Regions from separate parts of the Homo sapiens genome. Here all the other regions are linked to region 4. Evidence: fine-mapped expression QTL. A gene starts in region 4. Each other region holds a variant in brackets. All regions are shown on one strand. Distances are from middle to middle.

What was found. PIP is the estimated chance that this variant, and not a neighbour inherited with it, causes the effect.
Region 1: its variant is the best candidate, but not a certain one, in a credible set for the expression of ATP2C2 in fibroblasts (GTEx, PIP 0.85).
Region 2: its variant is the best candidate, but not a certain one, in a credible set for the expression of ATP2C2 in sun-exposed skin (GTEx, PIP 0.83).
Region 3: its variant is the best candidate, but not a certain one, in a credible set for the expression of ATP2C2 in testis (GTEx, PIP 0.67).
Region 5: its variant is the best candidate, but not a certain one, in a credible set for the expression of ATP2C2 in whole blood (TOPMed, PIP 0.82).

What each region holds. Positions count from the first base shown.
Region 1 is chr16:84,453,231-84,458,360 of GRCh38, reverse strand. ATP2C2 (ATPase secretory pathway Ca2+ transporting 2) reads right to left here. Exons shown (of 27, transcript NM_014861.4): 19 at 5,126-5,130; 20 at 4,990-5,040; 21 at 3,377-3,543. Among named protein-coding and RNA genes, the nearest start is that of ATP2C2-AS1, 12 kb to the left of the region's middle. The variant T/G (reference allele first, on the strand shown) is at 3,037.
Region 2 is chr16:84,337,956-84,343,082 of GRCh38, reverse strand. No RefSeq gene overlaps it. Among named protein-coding and RNA genes, the nearest start is that of ATP2C2, 28 kb to the left of the region's middle. The variant G/A (reference allele first, on the strand shown) is at 2,448.
Region 3 is chr16:84,323,892-84,329,022 of GRCh38, reverse strand. It overlaps WFDC1 (WAP four-disulfide core domain 1), which reads right to left. Exons shown (of 7, transcript NM_021197.4): 5 at 4,563-4,604; 6 at 2,068-2,141. The coding sequence ends at 2,083. Among named protein-coding and RNA genes, the nearest start is that of WFDC1, 32 kb to the right of the region's middle. The variant C/A (reference allele first, on the strand shown) is at 2,574.
Region 4 is chr16:84,365,492-84,370,491 of GRCh38, reverse strand. ATP2C2 (ATPase secretory pathway Ca2+ transporting 2) reads right to left here and starts at 1,954. Exons shown (of 27, transcript NM_014861.4): 1 at 1,778-1,954. The coding sequence starts at 1,876.
Region 5 is chr16:84,395,263-84,400,393 of GRCh38, reverse strand. It overlaps ATP2C2 (ATPase secretory pathway Ca2+ transporting 2), which reads right to left. Exons shown (of 27, transcript NM_014861.4): 2 at 1,785-1,895. Among named protein-coding and RNA genes, the nearest start is that of ATP2C2, 29 kb to the right of the region's middle. The variant T/C (reference allele first, on the strand shown) is at 2,187.

The DNA.
Region 1 (5,130 bases), 88 kb before region 4:
CCCCTCCCCCGACCCCACCACAGTCCCCAGAGTGTGATATTCCCCTTCCTGTGTCCATGTGATCTCATTGTTCAATTCCCACCTATGAGTGAGAATATGTGGTGTTTGGTTTTTTGTTCTTGCAATAGTTTACTGAGAATGATGGTTTCCAATTTCATCCATGTCCCTACAAAGGACATGAACTCATCATTTTTTATGGCTGCATAGTATTCCATGGTGTATATGTGCCACATTTTCTTAATCCAGTCTATCATTGTTGGACATTTGGGTTGGTTCCAAGTCTTTGCTATTGTGAATAGTGCCGCAATAAACATACGTGTGCATGTGTCTTTATAGCAGCATGATTTATAGTCCTTTGGGTATATACCCAGTAATGGGATGGCTGGGTCAAATGGTATTTCTAGTTCTAGATCCCTGAGGAATCGCCACACTGACTTCCACAATGGTTGAACTAGTTTACAGTCCCACCAACAGTGTAAAAGTGTTCCTATTTCTCCACATCCTCTCCAGCACCTGTTGTTTCCTGACTTTTTAATGATTGCCATTCTAACTGGTGTGAGATGATATCTCATAGTGGTTTTGATTTGCATTTCTCTGATGGCCAGTGATGATGAGCATTTTTTCATGTGTTTTTTGGCTGCATAAATGTCTTCTTTTGAGAAGTGTCTGTTCATGTCCTTCGCCCACTTTTTGATGGGGTTGTTTGTTTTTTTCTTGTAAATTTGTTTGAGTTCATTGTAGATTCTGGATATTAGCCCTTTGTCAGATGAGTAGGTTGTGAAAATTTTCTCCCATGTTGTAGGTTGCCTGTTCACTCTGATGGTAGTTTCTTTTGCTGTGCAGAAGCTCTTTAGTTTAATTAGATCCCATTTGTCAATTTTGGCTTTTGTTGCCATTGCTTTTGGTGTTTTGGACATGAAGTCCTTGCCCATGCCTATGTCCTGAATGGTAATGCCTAGGTTTTCTTCTAGGGTTTTTATGGTTTTAGGTCTAACGTTTAAATCTTTAATCCATCTTGAATTGATTTTTGTATAAGGTGTAAGGAAGGGATCCAGTTTCAGCTTTCTACATATGGCTAGCCAGTTTTCCCAGCACCATTTATTAAATAGGGAATCCTTTCCCCATTGCTTGTTTTTCTCAGGTTTGTCAAAGATCAGATAGTTGTAGATATGCGGCATTATTTCTGAGGGCTCTGTTCTGTTCCATTGATCTATATCTCTGTTTTGGTACCAGTACCATGCTGTTTTGGTTACTGTAGCCTTGTAGTATAGTTTGAAGTCAGGTAGTGTGATGCCTCCAGCTTTGTTCTTTTGGCTTAGGATTGACTTGGCGATGCGGGCTCTTTTTTGCTTCCATATGAACTTTAAAGTAGTTTTTTCCAATTCTGTGAAGAAAGTCATTGGTAGCTTGATGGGGATGGCATTGAATCTGTAAATTACCTTGGGCAGTATGGCCATTTTCACGATATTGATTCTTCCTACCCATGAGCATGGAATGTTCTTCCATTTGTTTGTGTCCTCTTTTATTTCCTTGAGCAGTGGTTTGTAGTTCTCCTTGAAGAGGTCCTTCACATCCCTTGTAAGTTGGATTCCTAGGTATTTTATTCTCTTTGAAGCAATTGTGAATGGGAGTTCACTCATGATTTGGCTCTCTGTTTGTCTGTTGTTGGTGTATAAGAATGCTTGTGATTTTTGTACATTGATTTTGTATCCTGAGACTTTGCTGAAGTTGCTTATCAGCTTAAGGAGATTTTGGGCTGAGACCATGGGGTTTTCTAGATAAACAATCATGTCGTCTGCAAACAGGGACAATTTGACTTCCTCTTTTCCTAATTGAATACCCTTTATTTCCTTCTCCTGCCTGATTGCCCTGGCCAGAACTTCCAACACTATGTTGAATAGGAGCGGTGAGAGAGGGCATCCCTGTCTTGTGCCAGTTTTCAAAGGGAATGCTTCCAGTTTTTGCCCATTCAGTATGATATTGGCTGTGGACACATACACTCTCCCAAGACTAAACCAGGAAGAAGTTGAATCTCTGAATAGACCAATAACAGGCTCTGAAATTGTGACAATAATCAATAGTTTACCAACCAAAAAGAGTCCAGGACCAGATGGATTCACAGCCGAATTCTACCAGAGGTACAAGGAGGAACTGGTACCATTCCTTCTGAAACTATTCCAATCAATAGAAAAAGAGGGAATCCTCCCTAACTCATTTTATGAGGCCAGCATCATTCTGATACCAAAGCCGGGCAGAGACACAACCAAAAAAGAGAATTTTAGACCAATATCCTTGATGAACATTGATGCAAAAATCCTCAATAAAATACTGGCAAACCGAATCCAGCAGCACATCAAAAAGCTTATCCACCATGATCAAGTGGGCTTCATCCCTGGGATGCAAGGCTGGTTCAATATACGCAAATCAATAAATGTAATCCAGCATATAAACAGAGCCAAAGACAAAAACCACATGATTATCTCAATAGATGCAGAAAAAGCCTTTGACAAAATTCAACAACCCTTCATGCTAAAAACTCTCAATAAATTAGGTATTGATGGGACGTATTTCAAAATAATAAGAGCTATCTATGACTTTTTTTTTTTTTTCTAAGTGTGTTAAGGCTTCCTATGGCGAATCAACTGTGGAGACACCTTTGTAAAGTGCACGATCCACCTAGCCTCAATATTTGTTTATTTGGATTTTTTGTATCAGGCTTAAAAAGTTTTCCCTCACCCCCAACTAACCACTGCGATTAGCTTATGAGGAGAGTCTCAGAACTAATTAAAATTAGGAAGGTAAATGTATTAAGAAAAAAATACAGAAAAGTGAAACAGAACAAATAGTTTTGTGCAAGCCCCAGAACCTAGAGAGCACCTCCGTGGTCAGCGATGGGGGTGTTTCTGCCCAGGTCTCTTTGCAATGCCTGAGATATATGTATCAACACGCAGGCCTCAAACGGAAGATGTTCATTTTAATCCTTTCTCACCCCACACTCAAGTGTGAGCACGTATTTGGCCACAGGTTTTCCTTACA[T/G]ATTCAGCTGCTGCCCACCAGCCTGAGCCAGGCGGGCATTCCCAGTACCACATGAAATGCACCCACAGGCAGCAAATCCCATCTCTGCTTCATATCCGTAACATTCCCCTGGGGGCAGCATGTGACTAGCCCCAGGCATCATGGACCCCATGACCCTGCTATGAGAGGCTGTTGGTACTTGGGGTTGGGGGCACCTGCCACACTGACGAGCCCCGAGATTCAGCTCTCCCTGGGGACTCCGCGAGACCCCCCCCTCTATCTCCACAGTAGCAGGTTCCAGGGAGAAGCTGGTGACCCCAGGCATTTTTGCAACTGAAAAACAACCAGAAGGGCAGCTTACATGATGGCTGAGAAGTCATCATCCACCAGGATCATGTTGGCGGCCTCTTTGCTGACGTCCGTCCCTGTCTGCCCCATGGCGATCCCAATGTCTGCAGACTTCAGGGCCACTGCGTCGTTCACCCCATCCCCAGTCATGGCCACGATCGCCCCTGACTCCTGCAGAGCCTTTGGAAAGAGCAGGCAATGAAGGCCTGCAGCCTGACGACCACCTCCCAGTGCCCGGCCATGCACACCCTGTGGCCAGCCACAGACACCTCTGTCTGGAGGGCACCCGGAATTCGAATCCCAGCTTCACCCACATTAGCTGTGGGAATTGGGCGAGCCCTTGACCCTCTTGACCTCAGTTTCCCTATCTGCAAAGTGGGAGCAACAGTTTCTTCTTCCCAGGGCTGTTGTGAGGCCCAAACTGAGATGACGGATGTGACGGTGCCCAGCACGGTCAGTAAAGGCTCATAAAGGTTATCCAGTCCCAGTAATAAACAGTAATCAACAGTGCGGCCCTGGAAACCATGGGGTACCTGGTAAGTATTACTACCTTCTTTGAGGAGTAACTCACATAGGGATTTACTCTGTAGAGCTAAAAATAACATGAAAGAAGAAAGCCCGTCTACTAAAAGAGCTCAAGAGCAAACTTTCAGAGCACAGGCGAGAAAACCAAGCACATTTTCTACCTTTTTTTGGTATTCAGAGTCAGAAAAATCACATCAGCTCTTTATTGGGCTCCTGCTGTGTGCCAAGAGATTCATGGGCCTGGCTTTGTTTAATTCTCTACCAACCCTGTGAATCAGCTGACGGCATTAATAGTTCCCCCATTTTACAGATGAGGAAACGGAGGCACGGAGTTGAGTAAAAGGAATAAAGCCAAAAAGCACCCAGCACTTTGGGAGGCGAAGATAGGCGGATCACCTGAGGTCAGGAGTTTGAGACCAGCCTGGCCAACATGGCGAAACCCTGCCTCTACTAAAATTACAAACATTAGCCGGGTGTGCTGGTGCACACCGCAATCCCAGCTACTTGGGGAGACTGAGGCAGGAGAATCGCTTAACCCTGGGAGGCAGAGGTTGAAGTAAGCCGAGATTGTGCCACTGCACTGCAGCCTAGGTGACAGAGCAAGACTCCGTACCTACAACCCCACCCCCAGAAAAAAAAAAGATAGCTTCTCTTTTAGTTTTTCCCTCTACGTTATCCAATTACAGCTCCCAGTTTTCACTGTATGTAGCAAAGGTCCCCCAGTTCTCCCATCTTCTTTAAAATTATCCCCAGGTTTGGTGGGGCTCGTGTCCGCCCAGCTACAGATGACACTTCCCAGCATCCCCTGCAGCTAAACCTGGGCCCGTGACTGTGTTCTGGCCAAGGGGCTGTCAGCGCAAGTGTTGCTGGCAACTTCAGAGCCTCGTCCTCTCCAAGGGAGCTGCCCACGCGCCCCTGCTCAACCTCCTCCCCTCCCCCTGGCTATGAAAAGGTAACTCCCGGGGCAGCTGCCCTGGACCTAGAGAAGGAAGCCACGGTCGGGCCCTGCACTGTCACCCGACGGACGCATGAGCTCCTCGAGCCACAGTGTCTCTGGCCCGGCCCCAGCAGCGCAGCCTGTGCCTGCCTTGCCCAGCGAACCTTGATGATTTTGAGCTTGTGCTTTGGGCTGGTCCTGAAGAACACGGACACCTGGACACGGAGACGGGGAAGACGAAGAATCAGATTTCAAAGCTGTGACCCAGCCCCACTGCCAGCCAAGCCTCCGGGGACCCACCTTCC
Region 2 (5,127 bases), 27 kb after region 4:
ATAATGACCCAGGTAAAACTTTCAGCATCTCCACATTATTTTCAGGGGTGAGAAAAAAGAAATGGCTTGGAGTCTGAGCTTCCTGGGATGTGCAGAATTCATCAGGCTCGGAAAGACGAGAGTGTGGGACCTCAGTCATGCCGTCACCCCCAGGCCTAGGGGTAGTTAAAGGCATTTTGTTCCTGACTTGCTGCCTCACCCGCTATCTTCATGTTCTGGGAATTTGTGACACAAAGAACAATGCCTAGCCAAGCAATAGTTTCTATTATTTTCATATAAATTCTTGGTAAACAGCTTGGGAACTGCCTTTCCTTTTTTCCTTTAAAAACCTACTTGTAACTGCTGCTGAGTGGACTTTATATTCAGAGCAGCTTGAGTCCATACTCTCAGGTTGAAATCCTCAAGCTTGGCCCAAATAAACTCTCTACTTAATTTAACTAAGTAATTAAGTCATTTTTTCCTCCGTTGTTTTTTTTTTTTCCTTTAGGTCAACAGGGTCAAGTTCAAACTCAGCGTGTGAACCGGCTGGCACCTGCTTAGCTTTCTAGCCCCACATCCTCTCACTCTTGGGTGCCCCCTTTCCCTGGCCATGCCCACCTGCTTGGAGGTCCTTGAACTTCTCTTCTCCATGCCTTTTTCAATGTTCTTCCCTCTGCCTGGAATGCCTTTACCCCTCTTCCCTCTCCTGACCTAGCCGCTTGCTCCCTGCTGGGGGTTCAATGACGTCTCCCCAGAATGCCCATGTCCTAACCCCCAGAACCTGCGGATGTGACCTCATTTGGAAATAGGGACTTTGCAGATGGGATGAAGTTAAAGGTCTCAAGAGGAGATTATCCTGGACTTAAGAGGGCCCTAAATCCAATGACAGGTGTCCTTCAAAGAGAAATCAGAGGGAAATCTGGGACACGGAGACAGAGGCAAAGGCCACGGGAAGACGCTGCAGAGATGGGAGAGGCACATCCTCAAGGCCGGGAGTACTGAAGTGGCCGGCTGCCATCGGAAGCCGGGAGAGAGGCGCCGGGCAGATTCTCCCTCGAAGCCCGGAGAGAGGCACGGGTTGGATTCTCCCTTAGAGCCTCCGGAATGACCCAGCCGTGTCAACACCTTGGTTTTGGCTTTCTGGCCTCCAGAACAGTGTGAATGCATGACTGTTGTTTCAAACCACTTGGTGTGTGGGCATTTGTTAACAGCAGCCACAGAAACTCATACTCAGAAACTTTGCTCAAACGTTGCCTCCTCTGGGAAGGCCGCCCTGACTCCTCATCTCGACTGGAGGCCCAGATCCCAGTATGACCCTCTCCTACCTCTTACCTCGGTGGCCATGATCAGCGACGCACCTGTGTGGCTTCACTCCAGAACGTAAACTGAAGGGCGGGATTCCCTAACGGCTTAGATTACAGCAGCCTCTCCCAGAGAAGTCCACAGTCTAACAGGCCTCGCAGCTGTCAACAAAAGATGGTTCTGTAATGGTGGAACTTCAGGCAGCTCACAGGGGCCTGCAGGAAGGATGTTTTGGGGGCTGGGCTCCTTTTCACTCAGGCTCCTACTCCAGGTGTCTGCACGGGAAGAACCTCTGTGGGGGCTGTAAGATCAGGTTTGTCCTGAAAGACAGTCACCTGAAATGAACCCACCTGCCTTCTCTTTGGACCAACTTACTGATATCTGTGAGAATGTTCTAGAAAAAAGGCTCAGGGTGCGAGCTTATACTGGCAACTCAGATGGAAAGCAACCTGGGAGGGAATGTGGCCACATCCGAATAACCAAAGTCCAAAGGGATTATTATTATTATTATTATTATTATTTTTCTGAGACAGGGTCTTGCTTTGGCATCCAGGCTGGAGTGCAGTGGCACAATCATGGCTCACTGCAGCCTCGACCTCCTGGGCTCAAGCGATCCTCTCACCTCAGCCTCCTGTGCTGGGACCTGAAGTTGTGCACCACCATGCCTGATTTTTTTTTCTTTTTTTTAAGAGACAGAGTCTCACTTTGTTGCCCAGGCTGGCCTTGAACTCCTGGGCTCAAGCAATCCTCCCACCTCATTCTCCCAAAGTGCTGGGATTATAGGCATGAGCCATCATGCCCGGCCCAAAGGGATGATTTAGTTAAGTTTGCCCTTACGGAAAAAGCTGCTTTCAGGGTCCTTGGATGGCGGGAGGTGCTTTGTCTCCAGCAGGCCTGGAGGGGCCCACAGGCTTGCCCACTAGTTTCCAGCGTCCCGGTGCCCCGTCTTGCAGTGGGGACCCAAAGCACCCAGGGGCCCATCCCGCAGCCATGCTTTGAGACCCTGTTTGCTGTCAGGAGGGACAGAGTCCTCTCAGCCTCTGGCCACCCCTGCTCCCTGTGGCTGTGGAACCGTCCCCAGGTGGTTAGAGAGGTGGCCGCAACTGAGAAATTGCTTCCTCAATACAGGAGAACTTGTGCTGCAAGAGAGAAAACTCCAGACAGGG[G/A]TTCAGAGAAGTGGGGCTGGCCTCCTTCTGTTCCTGGAAGAGTGGGAGAACGGGAGGTGGGGCTCTGATGTCCCAACAACCTGCCCCGCCAGTTTCCAGCTGTGAGGCCGTGGGGAGATTGCCACATACTCCCGTCTTCCTCATATTCCATCCACACGTGGGTAATAAAACCACCTAGTGAGGAGGAGGTGACAGTGCAGTCAGGATCTTTTGATGGTGATGGTTGCTCATGCAGCAAGATCACAGAGCTACACACACGTGCAAAGACACACACACACGCACGCACACACACACCCGTGCAGAGTGGGACACAGATGAGTATGCTCCATGGAGATTGCCAGCGTCACCTTCCCGGTTTTGATGTCATGTCGTAACCGTGTGAGATGTTACCATGGGGGAGGAGGGGTGGAGGGACCAGGACCTCCCTGTATATTTCTTTGCATGTCTTGTAAATTTATCAGAATTTCAAAGCAAGAAGTTTTTTTAAAAAAATTCTTTAAAGAAAAAAATCCAGCCAAATGACCTTAGTATAAAATACAATTTGACTTTGACAATTAATGGCAATAAAAGGGAACAAATTTGTTCTTCTTTCAGAGCCAAGTCTTGAACCCCATCAGCCCAGGGCCACAGCCCCTCGCCACTCCTTCACACGGCTCATCACGTGGCCCCATCTGCCCCGACTGGTTCCCGCTGGGTTTCTGTCATCGTCACCAAAGTGCAGTGGTCATCCAGCCTCTCAGCGCCTTTGAGTCCCTGGCTGGGGTCTTCAGTGACCCTTCTGTGTTTCTTTGCCTCCCAGCCTTGTAAGTTTCCTGACCGTTTTCACACCCTCATCTCATCTGGTCCTATGGAAGGCACGGCAGATGTTACCCCCCGTTTCAAAGCAGTGGAAACTGAGGATCAGGGTGGCTAAGCTCTTTGTCCAGGGATACGCAGCTAAGGACCAGTAGGGCCACCATGGAACTCAGCTCCAGTCCAGAGCACTCCAACAACCTGAGGCAGCCGGGTGTCTGCTCAGATTTCAGCTCAGGAGAGAGACACTGTCATCTGTCTCCAAAACAGTCAGGTCCAAGGGAGGATCTCAAGGGGAAACTGTACTAGGTTCAAAGCCAAAAACATACAGCTGCTTCCCAGACCAGACGGGCCAGGCACACACCATCTGCCTGCGATCACTGATCCATCTGTGTCTCTCCTCCCGTGCAGGGAGGAAGCAGGAAAGGCCAGGGAGGAGGGAAGGGAGGCTCTTTAGCCATCCCAGGGGCAGCATGATGAAGGGGAGAGCCCCTGGGAATCAGCAGGCCATGGTTCAAATCCCTGCTTCTCCATGTACTGTGTCCCACTAGACTATAGGCAGCAGGGGCGGTTTCTAGGCTGTTCCAGGCTGGAACAGCGACAGGCAGCAGACACCACAACTCATGTGCAACTTTATACACAATTAAAAGAAAAAGCACAACTAACCAGTCTGATATTATAATGCTTTCACCTTAAAAAATATTAGAGTTAATTTTTTTAATTTAAACTTTTTGTGGGTACATGTGGAAACAAAATGAGTTCACTGTAGGGGTATGGATTTGTTTCCGGGTTCTCTATTCTGTTCCATTGGTCTATGTGTCTATTTTTATGCTAGTACCACGTTGTTTTGGTTACTATGGCTCTGTAGTATGATATGAAGTCAGGTAAAGTGATTCTTCCAGTTTTTTTCTTTTTGCTCAGGATAGCTTTGGCTATTCTAGGTCTTTTGTGGTTCCATATAATTTTAGGATTTTTTTTTATTTCTATGAAGAATGTCATCGGTATTTTGATAGGGATTGCATAAATCTGTAGATTGCTTTGGATACTTTGGACATTTTAACATTGACTCTTCCAATCCACGAACGTGGAATATCTTTCTCTTTTTGGTGGGTCCATTTCCATTTCTTGCATCAGTGATTTAAAGTTTTCATTGCCGAGCTCTTTCACTTCTTTGGTTAATTCCTAGGTTTTTTTTGTTTGTTTGTTTGTTTGTTTTTGAGATGGAGTCTCGCTCTGTCCCCCAGGCTGGAGTGCAGTGGCGCGATCTCAGCTTACTGCAACCTCTGCCTCCCAGGTTCAAGCAATTCTTCTGCCTCAGCCTCCTGAGTAGCTGGGATTACAGGCATGCACCACCACGTCCGGCTAATTTTTGTATTTTTAGTAGAGACAGCGTTTCACCATGTTGGCTAGGCTGGTCTTGAACTCCTGACCTCATGATCCACCCACCCCGGCCTCCCAAAGTGCTGGGATTAGAGGTGTGAGCCACTGCGCCTGGCCTATTCCTAGGTATTTAATTTTAGCTATTGTAAGCGGGATTACTTTCCTGATTTCTTTTTCAGATTGTTCATTTTGGTGTATAGAAATACTATGGATTTTAGGCCAGGCACCGTGGCTCACGCCTCTACTCCTAGCACTTTGGGAGGCCGAGGCAGGCGGATTGCCTGAGTTCAGGAGTTCGCGACCAGTCTGGGCAACATGGTGAAACACTGTCTCTACTAAAATACAAAAAATATATATATATATTAGCCGGGTGTGGCAGCGTGTGCTTGTAGTCCCAGTTACTCAGGAGGCTGAGGCAGGAGAATTGCTTGAACCTGGAGGCGGAGGTTGCAGTGAGCCCAGATCATGCCACCGCACTCCAGCCTGGCGACACAGCGAGACTCCGTCT
Region 3 (5,131 bases), 42 kb after region 4:
CCACAGTGCTGGAACAAGAATTTAAACCCAGACCTAGCTTGCTCCAAAGGCTGTACTTTTTTTTTTTCTTGAAACAGGGTCTCACTCTGTCACCCAGGCTGGAGTGCAATGGTGCAAACATGGCTCACTGCAGCCTTAACCTCCCTAGGCTCAGGTGATCCTCCCACCACAGCCTCCCAAGTAGCTGGGACCACAGGTGCACACCACCATGCCTGGGTAGTTTTGTATTTTTTTTTGTAGAGATAGGGTTTCACCATGTTGGCCAGGCCAGGCTGGGCTTGAACTCCTGGGATTATACCATATGCCTGCTTCGGTCTCCCAAAATGTTGAGATTACAGGCGGGAGCTGCTGCGCCCACCCAAAAGCCTCAACTTCCAAACTGCCATCCTCAACTGCCTCCCAAGGTCTCGTCCTCATCCACTGGCCTCCTTCTTCCCTGTTAGAAGCTCAGTCCTCAGCTGCATCTGACCTACTCCAGGGACGGCTCCTGTCATCAGCAGGTAACAGACGTGCTGGCATCAGTCCCTACGGGCTCCAGATTTTCCGGGAGGATTCTGGAACCTGCAATCTGACATTTGCGTTTCAGCGACGTCCTGGGAGGCTGTCACCTGCTTTTAGGGGCTCCTTTTTGCCCTCTGTGGCTATCCAGCATTCACAGGGGCTGGGTAGATTTTCAGGTTTAGGGCTGCAACTCCACAGCCCTTTGCATGCACCTACGCCTCACCTTTGAGGGCACGTGAGGGCAAGCCTGTGCCTCACCTGCGGCCTCCTCTGGAGTCAGCCTCCCTGCCACCTTCCTGCGTCTACCCCAGGGGCCTTCTTTGGCTCCCCAAAGCCAGCGTCCCTCCTGCCTCAGTACTTTCACTCTTCCAACTCCCTCCACCTGGGCGCCTATCCTCCAGACCCTCCCCAAGCAGCACCTTCTCACCTTGGATCTTGGCTCAGACTTCAACCCCCACAGGGCCTTCCCTGACCCCAAACGAAGCAGCCCCTGCCCCAGGCTCTGCTCCTGCCCAGGGACTCTGCCCCACATTGCCTGTTCACTTCTTCACCACACCTGTCTTTGTATTGATTGATCTGTTGGCTTGTGTAGCCGTCCCCTACCAGGATGTGGCCTCCCTGAGGGCAGCGGCTCTGTGGGATTTGTTCACTATACCACCCTGGCATGAACTACCGCTGAGCAACCAAGAGGCTGGAACCATGACTATCAGATAGTTGGCACCCAACAGAATTGTTTGACAGAAATGAGAAGAGATAGACAAGACTTCCTGGAGACATCAAGGCAAAGGAATGAAAAGGAAAGTTGCGACCTAGTCTGGTCTTGGATTTTTGATTCAGAGGGATACAGAATTGCTTCTGCTTCTGATCACACACAAAGTTCTCCTACGTTCCTGCCTTGAAATTGCAGTAGGTCCTCATTTAACATCATGGATAGCTTATTGGAAACTGCAACTTTAAGCAAAATGACCTACTATATAACAAAAACAATTTTACCATAGGCTAATGGATATAAACAAGAGTTAAGGCCAGGCACAGTGACTCATGCCTGCAATCCCAGCACTTTGGGAGGCCAAAGTGGGAGGACTGCTTGAGGCCAGGAGTTCAAGACCAGCCTGAGTAACATAGTGAGAACTCATCTCTACAAAAAATACAAAAAAAAAATTAGCCAGGTGAGGTGGTGTATGTCTGTAGTCCCAGCTACTGAGACTAAAGCTGAGGCAGGAGGATGGCTTGAGCCTAGGAGTCTGAGGCTGCAGTGAACAATGATTGTGCCAGTGCACTCCAGCCTGGGTGACAGAGTGAGACCCCATCTCTTAAAAAAACAAACAAATGAGTTAAGCTTCTATGGCATACAGTGCATATAGTATGTCGTTGCATTTAAAGTCAGTTTCCAAGAACCTATTGATGACGTTAGGTGAGGACTTACTGCAGAAGGGAATTTCAAATTCTACCAGTAGGGAAAGCGCTACTCTCACCCTCCTGCTCCTCAACCTGGTGGTGAAAGCTGCCAGGACACTGGCTGCCCACATTTACCCTGGCCATGACTCTTGCTCTCTGCCCACTCACCTGCTTGCCGTTGCTTTACTGAAAGTGCTTCTGTTGTCCCCTTCCAGGTTCTGCCACATTCTTTGAGTCACCTTCTGTGAAAAGAACACAGCTCTGTTGGGGTAGATGTATCTATTCCTGCTCTAATGCCCCCCGTGGCTCACCAGGAACTGCCAAATGAAGCCTGGTGACCTGGCCCTCTCCTCCCTCCCCCAGCTGAGGTCACTCAGTCCCCACCTGCAGTGCCTCCTCTCCCTCCCCAGGCCCCCCAGCTGGTGTCACCAGCTCTGTCTATGTTTCTGGTCTTACCTCCCACCACCTCCACAGCTCACCACACACTCCAGCTTTGGGGATGGCCAAATTGCTTCCGACCTCAAGAGCTTCACACATGCCATTCTGCTGCCCACTATTTCTTATTCTTTAGGCTGAGCTTTCATGTCTCCTCCTTAGGAAGCCTTTTCTCACAACCTGGACTAAGGTGTCCTCATAGTATCCAGCATGTGATGTCAGGAAGGCTTGTCACTATT[C/A]TCATAAAATAACCACTTGGGCTATATTCATGTCTGAATTTTCTGCTTGATATTAGCTGCATGACAGCAGCGACTGGGTCTGTCATGTTCACAAATGTAGCTCCAACCCCCAGCACAGACTGATGAGTAATACTTAGAAAATATGTGCTGTAAATTATTGATAAAGACATATCAGATGGATGGGAGAATGGATGGATGGATGGGTGAATGGATAAATGATGGATGGATGGATGGGTGAATGGGTGAATGGATAAATGATGGATGGATGGATGCATGGATATATGGGTGGGTGGATAGATGGATAGATGGGTAGATGAATGGATGGATGGATGGATGGATGGATAGATGGGTGGGTGGATGGACGGATGGATATATGGATGGATGGATAGATGGATGGATAGTGGCTGGCTGGATGGCTGAATAGATAGATGGATATATGGGTGGATGGATGAATGGATACATAGGTGAATGGATGGATGGGTAGATGGGTGGATGGGTGGATGGATGGATGTATGAATGGATGAAAGAAGAGATAGATGAATGAATGCAAGGATATGTGCATGAATGGATGAATGGGCAGATGGATGGATGGTTGGGTGAATGGATGTACGGGCAAATAGATGAGTGGATATAAGGATGGTTGGATGGAGGGATAAAGGAATAGAAGGGTGGATAAAATAATAGATGGGTAGATGAAAAGATAGATGAATATATAGATGGATAGATGGAAGAATGAACAGATGGATGAATAGATCGATGGAGGAATGGATGGATGGATGCATGCTTGAAAAAATGGATGGATGAAAGATTAGATGAATATATGAATGGATGAATGAGTGAATGGATAGATGAATGGGTGGGTGGATGGATGGTGGGTGGATGCATAGATGGGTGGGTGGATGGATGAGTGGATGGATGGATAAATGGATAGACAGATGGGTGGATGGGGCCAGGCACAGTGGCTCATGCCTGTAAATCTAGCACTTTGGGAGGCCGAGGCGGGCAGATCACCTGAGGTCAGGAGTTTAAGACCAGCCTGGCCAACAAGGTGAAACCTCGTCTCTACTAAAAATACAAAAATTATCCAGGTATGGTGGCGGACACCTGTAATCCCAGCTATTTGGGAGGCTGACGCAGGAGAACTGCTTGAACCCAGGAGGCAGAGTTTGCAGTGAGCCAAGATTACTCCAGTGCACCCCAGCCTAGGCAACAGAGTGAGACTCCATCTCAAAAAAAAAAAAAAGGTAGATGGGTGGATAGATGGATAAGTGAAAGGATGTATGTATGAATGGATGGATGGATAGATGAATGGATGATTGGTGAATAGGTAAGTAAATGAAAGGATGGATGGATGGAGGGATGAAGGAATAAAGGGGTGGATAAAAGGATAGATGGGTGGGTGAAAAGATAGATGAATATGTGGATGGATGGATGAATGGGTGGATGGATGGAAGAATGAATAGATGGATGAATAGATTGATAGAGGAATGAATGGATGAAAAAACAGGAAGATGAATGAAAGAATAGATGGATATATGAATGGATGAATGAGAGGATGGATGGATGAATCGGTGGATGGATGGATGGATGGTGGGTAGATGGATGGGTGGGTAGATGGATGGAGGGATGAATGGATGGATGAAATAATAGATGGAGAGATGGATGGATCAATGGATGATTAGATGGATGAATGGAAGAGTGGTATCAGGCGTGTTTTCCAATTCTCTGAATGAAAGTAGCAGAGGCTTAAATATGAGCAGTTCCAGGCTCTGCTCTTCAGCATGAGGTCATGTTTGCCATGAGCTCCTCTGTGACTCACAACTCCCTGCCCACCATCAGACCACAGGTCTTCTATTTTGTTTCTTAATCCCAGGTCCCATTTTGTTCCCTATATCTCAGCCCTGGGCTTTTATTTTTTTCTTCACATAAGAAACTTTCACTGCCTTTTTTTTGTGCCCTCTGGAAAGAAAGAACAGTTTCTTCTTTTACCTGGATATTCTTTGTAAAGTTTGTGTCGTAGGATTCGCCCATCTGGAAAACAAGTGAGAGGAAAAAACTTCTTTTAGGAGTTTAGAAGGCCAAAACTGTTGTCATAATAACACTGAGGAATTACTTGTGTTTTTCAGTCTCCCCATCTCACTAGTGTACAATGGAATTGTTCAGAGGCTACATGAGCATTTGTAATGTCTCAGCTCTAGTTTCTAATATGATAATATCCAGAGCCATCAACCCATAAAGGAAAGCCCTGTGAGATCTCCTTAACATCTTTCAGGGTACAGCGGTCTTGAGAGCAAAAAGTTTCAGAACCACTGTCTTTTTTTTTTTTCTTTTAGACGAAGTCTCACTCTGTTGCCCAGGCTGGAGTGCAGTGGCATGATCTCAGCTCACTGTAACCTCTGCCTCCTGGGTTCAAGTGATTCTCCTGCCTCAGCCTCCCGAGTAGCTGGGATTACAGGCATGCGCCACCACACCCAGTCAATTTTGTATTTTGAGTAGAGATGGGGTATCGCCATGTTGGTCAGGCTGGCCTCGAACTCCTGACCTCAGGTGATTCACCC
Region 4 (5,000 bases):
CTCACACTTCCCATCGATCTTCATTGCCATTTCCTGGGTTTGCACATTTCCTGGGTTTGCACAAGGCTGCCTCTGGAGACAGCATGGCTTCTTTCTCAGCTGGCCTTTGGTGTCAGTGCTGGTATCACCCGCCTCCTGGCGCTGCACACTGCCCATCATCACGCACCCAGGGCCTCAGGATGCTGCTGAGAGCACCCCGGTCCACAGCCAGGTGGGAGAGCACACTGACAGACCGGCTGAACACCTGTCAGACCTCTGAGAACTCTCCTGCAAAGCTTTGGAGGGACGAGTCCACCTGGCACAGAGATCAAACTCTCCCAGCATCTCCCTTGAGGTTACATCATCCATGCACCTGCATTCCTGGACATCCTGTGAAACCTGATGGTAACCAACTACACACCAGGAGAGTTTGAAAAATACCTGGCCTGATGCAAGAATCAAAAGATGGAAAGGAAAAAACAGGAATGGCAACATAGGAAAGGCAACCTGTGATGGCAAATAAACTTCAAACTCCTTTAGCAGAATGTATCGCAGAAGCAGAGAAATGGATCACAGCCAATTAATTGAACTCTATATCCTATCAATATTAACATGCCACTTCAGAAAAATCGAGATTGCTCAAAAACTGCTAGTTACGTGGTCCTGTGGCCTACCACCCTAAGACCAGAATTCTTACATCAACAGGGATGTATAAAACACTATTTTTAAAAAAGCACAAAACACTATTTTTAAAAAAGCACGAATACTTAATCTCACAAACAAAATGTTTTGACCATTAGTATTCTTTGGGAGAAAAAAATAAAATTTTAAGTCAAATATTTTTTCAGCTAATTTCTTTTTTTAATTAAAAGGTAAGTTTACCTTTGAAGTTTCCTTTCACTGGTCAAAAGGCCATCGCCAAGTCATATTTCTAATTAGCAACCCAGGGGACTCGTTCAGAAATGTTACTTTTGAACGACTGCTTAAGCGTAAATGAAAAAAAAAAAAGTGCAACGACCCTCTGGCGTGCAGAGAAACGCTTCTGCAGAAATTCAGTGCCCCCCTGACCTTAAAGCATGCAACGAGTTCTGTTTGCGAAGCTAAAAAGAAGGGTGTTGGGTCACCCTCAAGCCTGGCTTCACCCCTGGCTTCCAAGAATCCAAGGAACAGGAGGGGCTTTATTTGACAGCTTTGCCACTTCGTTCCCTCATGAACCGCCCTGCCCTGGCACCCTGCTGCTTTATCCCAGAGGGTCCCTGAAGGTTGCAAAGCAGGCATACAGCTCTGAGTGACTTTCTAAAAGTACCTGACTGTAGGAAGTGAGGCTGGGAGGTCCCTCAGCTCCAACTTTGCTTTCTATTATTGCTACAACATTTCAGCAATCTTTTGTTTTTTGCATCCCTCTAATTTTATTTTCCAATTTAAGTTTTAAAAATCCATAAAGCAGCCCAAGTCTGGAGACCCAGGAATTTTAATTCTCTGGAGTCAGAGAAACCTAGGTTAAGTTCCCAGCCAGGTCACTTCCTAGCTCCGTGCCCCTTAGGGAATATACTTAACCACTCTCGGCCTCAGTTTCTCAACCACAAAATGGGTTCACGTGAGGGTTCCATGCTGAGCTCCCCGCGCCAGAGCGCAGATGAGAGCGCGGTTGCTGTGAGGACAGCTTCTTTCCAGAGCCAGGGGAGGAGGGCGAGTTCGCGGATCGCAGCGCGAACGCGGGGTCTCGGGCCGGGGACGGTTACGACGGAGGGGATGGGGGGTCGGGTCGCACGCCCGGCGCGGAGTCGCGGGGACTCACCAAGGCTTCCTCTTCGTCCTTCTCCAGCGCCTGGTACTGGCGGCCCCCGCCCGAGAAGCCGAGTTTCTTCAGGAACTCGGAGACGCGTCCCTCGACCATGGTGAGCGGGCGCAGGCGTTGCCTGCGTCCCTAGGTCCCCGGCGAGGCCCGGGATGGCTGCGCGCGCCCAAGCCTCCTGGGCCGGACCCGGTTACCAGGTAGCTGTCTACCTGCCCGCGGCAGGTGAGGCCCCGCCCCTGGGGCGGGGCTGCGCACAGGGAGGTGCCGGCTCACCCGGCCCCGCCCCGCGAGCTCGCCTGGGACCCCAGGGGCTCTGGGGACAGCGCCGGCTGGCCATGAAAGGCCCAGGGAGAGGCTGCGTCGCCTCAGGGCTTGGGCTGTTTCCCAAACTTACAGATCCTAAGAATCACCTGGAGTGGGGGAGGTGGAGGAGCAAATGCTGGTTTAAAATCCGGATTCCCAGACCCCTCCCTGCCCAGTCACGGTTTGGAGCCGCCGGGAGCTGGGTTTTTAACGAGCCCCAGGTGATCCTCTTGAGGAACCCAGGGTGGGCGGCTCTAAGGCGCCGGGAGCGAGGTGGCTGGAGCTCAGTCAGACTCACACCTGCGGCTGTGCACTCTGGACGGGTCACGTGGCCTTTCTGAGCCTCGGCAACCTAGCCTGTCATTGAGCGGGGAGCAGCAGAAGGCTAAGACCCCCACCTCCAGGGCCCTGGGAGTGAGTCCAGGAACAGGAGCGACTGAGAGCCCTGCTGCCTTTGGCGCCTGCATGGTCTCGGATGGTCAGGGCCCCTGTCCTCGTCTGCAGGATGAGCGCCGCTCTTGCTCGTCGTGGGACCTGAGCAGGTTTCTTATATTTTTAGCGCCTTGGTTTACTGCTCTGCAGAATGGCCACCACGATAGCGCCTCCTTCACAGTGACATGGAGAGGCCCCAGCGGACAGTGCTGTACAGGAAGGTCTCGAGCAGGGCTTGGAGTAGAGAATGTGCTGGTGTCCCCATGACACCATCCTCCTCCTCTTCATCATCAGAAGGTGCTGGGCTCAAATGGCTCCCAAAGTATGTGAGTCCATACGCAGTGTAGACAGTTGCCAGCAGCCAAGTGGGTGCTTTGAAGTTCCAGGGCTTTCTTTGGCTTCAGGTAGGACTAGATCCGTAACTAGACCCACCACTTAGCAGAGGGGGAGCTCTGGGGAAGTCCGTGCCACCCGCCTTTCCGCTGGCTTCCTCATCTCTACAGGGAAGTTACTCACGGGCTACAGGAGGTGCCCTCTGCATTTGTCCACGAAATTCAGCCACCCCTTTTGAGCAAATATTTGCCACCTACCTCAATTGCTCCCGAGGGTTGACTCCAGGCCACGAAAACCTGCAGGGCAGTTCCAGTGCCCCTTCTTGTATCTCCTGCATCTTCCTCTTTCAAGGAAACAAAGGCTACGGTATCAGCCTGGCCCCACTCCCCAGTTTCAACAAAGGTGCAGGAATAATGGTAACAGCAAACCTCTGATGTGAGTGAGTCCAGATTTGAATCCCAGGAATGTTCCTTTCCGACCTTGGGCAATTTTCTTCACCTCTCTCCACCTCAGTTTACTCATCCATAAAATGGGGATGTCACTACCTACCCGTAGGAGTCAGGGTCCCAGTAGGAAATAGTAATTTGAGGAGAGTTTGAGAAACAGACTTTTTACAAAGCTGTGGGGAAGACGTAGAGAAACCAGAAGTGCTTGTGTCATTAACGAAGACTAGCAAAGAGTGAGAAGTGGCTTTGGTCCCACCCAAGGCCTGAAGGGCCAGACGAGAGAGGAGTTACCTGGAGGGGGAGCTCTGGGGCACTGATAACTTCTGCAGAGGGCAACTGCTTAGATCAAAAGCCAGAAAGCAACAGAGCGCCAAGGATGCAGCCTCCTGGGCAGAGAATCCAAAGAAGGGTGGAGAGTGGTGTAGAGGAGGCTGGGCAAGGTGGCTCACACCTCTAATCCCAGCACTTTGAGAGGCCAAGGTGGGCGGATCACCTGAGGTCAGGAGTTCGAGTCCAGCCTGGCCAACATGGGGAAACCCTGTCACTAGTAAAAATAGAAAAATTAGCCAGGTGTGCTGGCATGCGCCTGTAATCCCAGCTACTTCGGAGGCTGAGGCAGGAGAATCGCTTGAACCCGGAAGGTGGAGGTTGCAGGGAGCCAAGATTGTGCCACTGCACTCCAGCCTGGGCAGTAGAGCAAGACTTCATGTCAAACAAACAAAAAAAAAAGAGTGTTGTAGAGGAACAAGGAGGAGACATCCCGCAGCCAACCTCAGCATCCTGTGGTTCAGGCTGAGTGAATGCTTGCACAGGTATGATGTAGTAGTACGATGTCGTGGTACCCGACATTGCAGGCTCTCAGGCGCTTCTATATTATTAATATAAAAGAACATATGGGAACTTGGCTCAGTTATTTCTCAGGTCCTTCCCAAGTGGCATTCTGTGATTTTAAAATGATGTTGGATCCAGGGAAGAAGAACGCCTTGTTGGCATCTTCATGTTTTTCCAAGCTGTTAACCAGATGTCATCTCTCCAGGCAGATCAGCATCCCCGGAGCAGAGGATTTGAAAGCCCAGCCTTTCGGATCCTATCACCATGGCTTCCGCTCCAGCCCAGAGATGTCAAGGCTGGAATTCCTGGGCTAGGTTCGAAAATGCCCAGGGCATTCCAGAAGGAAACTCTAGGTGGTGGATATATGCATGTACATTTTAGAGACAAGGTCTCACTCTGTAGTCCAGGCTGGAGGGCACTGGCGCGATCATAGTTCACTGTAGGCTTGAACTCCTGGGTTCAAGCAATACTCCCTCCTGAGTAGCTGGGACTACAGGTGCACAGAACCACACCCAGCTAATTTTCTAATTTTTATTTTTATGTAGAGATGGGGTCTTTGCTCTGTTGCCCAGGCCTATAAATTAGATTTGTGGTGTGTAAAATTAGGTAAATTAGGCTCCACCAGTGTTGGTTATGGTAAATGATGTGCCTGAAACATGGCAAATACTCCAAAAAATTTTTGAATATGTCTCCCATAAACAGCAGATCATTCAAATTTATATTTAACAGAACTTTCATATGAACGATTTGCTTTATAATAGGGAAATGTAGGCCGGGCGCAGTGGCTCATGCCTGTAATCCCAGCACTTTGGGAGGCTGAGGCAGGCGGATCATGAGGTCAGGAGATTGACACCATCCTGGCAAACACGGTGAAACCT
Region 5 (5,131 bases), 30 kb before region 4:
GATCGCGCCACCGCACTCCAGCTTGGGTGACAGAGTGAGACTCCATCTCAAAAAAAAAAAACAACAAAAAACTAAAAATACAACTATTATATGATCCCCAGTCCCACTCCTAGATACATAACCAAAAGAAAGGAAATCAGAATATTGAAGAGATATCTGCACTCCCATGTTTATCGCAGGAGTATTCACAATAGCCAAGGTTTGGAAGGAGCCTAAGTATCCATCAACAGACAAATGAATAAAGAAAATGTGGTACATATACACAATGGAGTACTATGCACCCATAAAAAAGAATGAGATCCTGTCATTTGCAACAACATGGATGGAACTGGAGGTCATTATATTAAGTCAAATAACATAGTGACCTCCAGACACAGAAAGGCAAACTTTGCAGGTTCTCGCTGATTAGTGGAAGCTAAAAATTAAAATAACTGAACTCATGGAGATAGTAGGATGGTTACCAGGGCCTGGAAAGGGTAGTTGGGAGAAAGTGGAGAGGGCTATGGGTACAAAAAATATAGTCAGAAAGAATAAATAAGACCTAGTATTTGCTGGCATGACAGGGCGACTGTTGTCAAAAATAATTTAATTGTACATTTTAAAATAACTCAAAGAGTGTAAGTGGATGACTTGTAACACAAAGGATAAATGCTTGAGGTAATGGAGACCCCGTTTGCCCTGATGTGATTATTATAGCGTATGCCTGTATCAAAGTATCTCTGGAACCCATAAATATGCACCTACTATGTACCCACAAAAATTAAAAATAAAAAAGAAACAGTAGCTAAAACAATTATATTGTGCCCAACTCCATTCAAGCTCTTTCTGTAAACAAATTCGTTAAATACAGCTAATTTATGAGTCAGTCATAATGGAAGGAAACTTTGTTGTTCTGGTCGCAACAAAAGTGTCCTTGTTTTTAAAAAGCCAATAACAAGAAAACTGTACTTGCTGGTAGAGGAAACGGGGAGAACAGAATTGATTTCTAGATTCTTTTGAATAGTGAAAGAAAATCTAGCTCATTTTCTAGCTAGGGATAATATGCAGGCAGAGAAGAAATACTTCCTCCCCCTCTCCAAATACTAATACACAGGACTTGAATTGAAACAGACTTGAGTTATTCTCAAGAAAAGACACTAGCTTCCAACTTCCTGAAATTGTAGTATGTGCCCTTTTCCTGGGGGCTTTTTATTTGCTTTCCCAAAATGTAGTGGTTCTGAGTATGCACGTGCACGCACGTGTGCACACACACACACTTGTGTGCAATGCAAATGTTTGTCTTGCACTGGCCAGGAATTAATTCAAACTCACTTGAGAAACTTGGGAGAATTTGGTTTTAGTACCTGGCAACTCCACGGATTATAAAAGACGACGGTGGGAATACCGGATGACCAAGAGTTTGGGCTTTCATGTGAAACAGCTGGACTCCACGCTGGGCTGTGCTACCTCTAACACTGGACTGTGCTACTTTCTGTGTCTCAACTTCATCTTCCATCCCTTTATGTTTTTGCCAAGAAATGTGAGGCTGAAGAGAAGCAGCGTACACAGAGTGTCTCAAAGGACGCCGTCTTCCGGTAAGGGCCTGGTGAAGACGAGCTCTACTGACAAGTACTGATATTCTACCTGTGGAATCTGAACCATTCAACATCAACAATATTTTCCAACCTTGATGATAAAATTGATAATAACACAGAATTTCAAAGCACTGTTCAGGGCTTTGTGTTGCTTTCTTTTAAACATAAAACCTTATCACAATTAGCTCCAGATGCAAATTCAATTCTTACACAAAACGCTCTGGCCAAATCCTCTTTCTGGCATTTGCACGCTTCCTTGGGGGGCAGGGCTGTCACCTTCTTCTCTTTCTCGATGGCTTTCAGCTCACTCTGTTCATCAATCTGTGAAAAGAGCAGGGTTGCTGTTTAGCGGATTGAACTTTTGTACTGATTAATTTTTAAATTTATTTTTTATTTTTATTAGTTTATTTTTTTGAGATGGAGTCTCACTCTGTCACCCAGGCTGGAGTGCAGTGTCATGATCTCAGCTCACCACAACCTCCACTTACCGGGTTCAAGAGATTCTTCTGTCTCAGCCTCCCGAGTAGCTGGGATTACAGGTACGCATCACCACACCCCACTAAATTTTTTTGGTATTTTTAGTAGAGACGAGGTTTCACCATGTTGGCCAGG[T/C]TGGTCTCAAACTCCTGACCTCAGGTGATCCGCTTGCCTCGGCCTCCCAAAGTGCTGGGATTAAAGGTGGAGCCACTGCGCCCGGCCACATGTGTTTTTTTTAAAGCATAAAACACACACACACAGTGTGCATATGTGTACAGCTCACAAACTAACCCTTATAACCAGCCCCCAAATTAAGAAACAGATATGACTGGTCCCCTGATGCTCCCTTGGCCAACCTACCTACCTGAGGGGTAACTGCTGTCATGGTTTCAATCCTCATAGATTAGGTTGGCCAGGGTTTGAACTTTATGGAAATGGTGCCATGCAGTATACACTCATACATGCTTTCTTGTCTGATTTCTTTCACTCAACATTGTTAGTGAGATTTATACAAGTGAGAATGCATGTAGCAACAGTACGCTAATTTTCACAGCAGCTTAGTATTCCACTGTATGAGTAGATCACATTGTATTTGTTCTCCTGTTGATGAATATCTGGGTTCCAGTTGTTAGTTGTTGGCTAATACTGATGCATCTATTTTTAAGCAAGTTTTTTTTTTTTTTTTTTGTCACCCAGGCTGGAGTGCAGTGGTGCAATCATAGCTCACTGCAGCCTCAACCTCCCAGGCTCAGGTGATCCTCCTGCTTCAGCCTCCTGAATAGCAGGACCACAGGTGCATGCTATTGTGCCTGGCTAATTTTTTAATATTTTGTAGGGACAGGGTCTCCCTATGTTGCCCAGGCTGAGCGAACTTATTTTACAGAATTGAAACTTGTAAGTGGACAGAGTAGGGCAACAATATACATATGTAGAATCCTGAACCTCGAACTTCCAGGATTCTCCATCAAGTATGCACCATATTGCAGAGAGTGCCTCCTACTGATGATAGGTGGTATCACAGCCTGGTTCTATGGGACATTTTAAATAACCAAAGAAAAGGGGAGGGGAAACACAACCAAGTTCTGGAAGTCCCAGCACTCTGTGTTGAGACCTGCGGGCCTGGAAAGAAGCCACGTGAAACACCTGGAGGCTTCGGGAGGCTTTGCTAATACAAAGGAGACCTCAGAAGCGGAAAAGTGTGAGGTATTTTTGCAAAACCATTCCTAGCATCCTGATACCCAGGATGTGATAATCATCTTTTCCTTTTCCACCAGGTTACTGGAAACTGGGAAAAAGGAAGCAGGAGAGGTATTGAGTAACTTCCTCCTTTAGCTGTAATAGAGATTGCAAATCCCACTCTTCCTTCTTGACAGCCGCCCTCCCCAACCCCAAACCATCTCCTCCCAAATGCCTATTTGCTTAGAAAAGCTGTGCTACCCACCTCGGTTTCATGCGGCTGCTTCTCACTCATGCCCAGTGCCCAGGAGCACAGCAGCGATTACGCAGATCTTTAAGCAGGCTTAGCCATCCATTGGGAGCCCTCCTTAAGTCAACATTGCATTCTTTGTAGAGTTACTTCAAAGAAAAATGTGGATTGCACAAGACTTTTCCCCCCATTCTCAAGATCTGCTCCCGTCGTACCAAATAAAGTGCTTGATTCTTGCGCACACCACAGGTGGAGGCAGGCTGGGCACTCCCCCCATCCCCCACACTCACTCAGCTGCCCTCAGCCTTGCCATTTGTGACTCACTACACCGAATTCACTTTTCCTTTTTTTTTTTTTTTTTTTTTTTGAGATAGAGCCTCACTCTGTCACCCAGGCTGGAGTGCAGTGGTGCGACCTCGGCTCACTACAACCTCCTCCTCCCGGGTTCAAGCGAGTCTCCTGCCTCACCCTCCCCAGTAGCTGGGACTACAGGCACGCACCGCCACGCCTCACTAATTTGTTTTTGTATTTTTAGTAGAGACGGGTTTTCACCAGGTTGGCCAGGCTGGTCTCAAATTTCTGACCTCAGGTGATCTGCCTGCCTCAGCCTCCAAAAGTGCTGAGATTACAGGCGTGAGCCACTGCACCTGGCTCGAAACACATAAATCCCATCTCACACACACACACACACACGCCCGATGCTTGAAAACACTTGCAGAGATTCCAGTGCTCTCAGGATAAGAGCCCAATTACCTTCAATGTGACTGCCCAAAACCCACACATGCTACAACATGGATGAACCTTGAAGATGTTATGCCTGGTGAAATAAGCCAGACCCGAAAGGACAAATCCTATAGGACTCCAGTTACAGGAGGTCCCTAAAATAGTCAAACTCACAGAGACAGAAAGGAGAGCAGAGGTAACCGGGCTGGGGAGTTAGTGTTTAATGACTACAGAGTCTCTTTGGGAAAGATGAGAGTTTTGGAGGCAAATATTGGTGATGGTTGCATAACAATGGGAATATACTTAATGCCAGAGAGCCATACCCTTAAAAATGGTTAAAATGGTGAATTTTATGTTATGTATATTTTACCACAATAAAAATCCAGAAGAAAAGGGCCAGACACAGTGGCTCATACCTATAATCCCAGCACTTTGGGAAGCTGAGGCAGGCAGATCATCTAAAGTCAGGAGTTCGAGACCAGCCTGGCCAACATGGTATTTTGTAAAAATACAAAAATTAGCCAGGCATGGTGGCAGGCATCTGTAATCTCAGCGACTCTGGAGGCTGAGTCAGGGAGAATTGCTTGAACCTGGAAGGCGGAGGTTGCAATGAGCCAGAGTCAGGGAGAATTGCTTGAACCTGGAAGGCGGAGGTTGCAATGAGCCAAGATCATGCCACTGCACTCCAGCCTGGGCAACAGAGTGAGACTCTGTCTCAAAAAAAAAAAAAAGATCAAAGGCACCAATTCCCCTGCCTTTGAGGGCAGGACTAGCATGTGCCCCCAACCTTTGTCACGTGCTCTGGACATCTGAAGGCCCAGGGCTGTCCACCCACATGTCCCTGGGGAATGAGCTAGGTGGATTGAGGAAGTCATGGGGTGACAGGGTGCCATGCTGCAGTGACACTGGAGGGGAGAGGGGGTTGGATGCA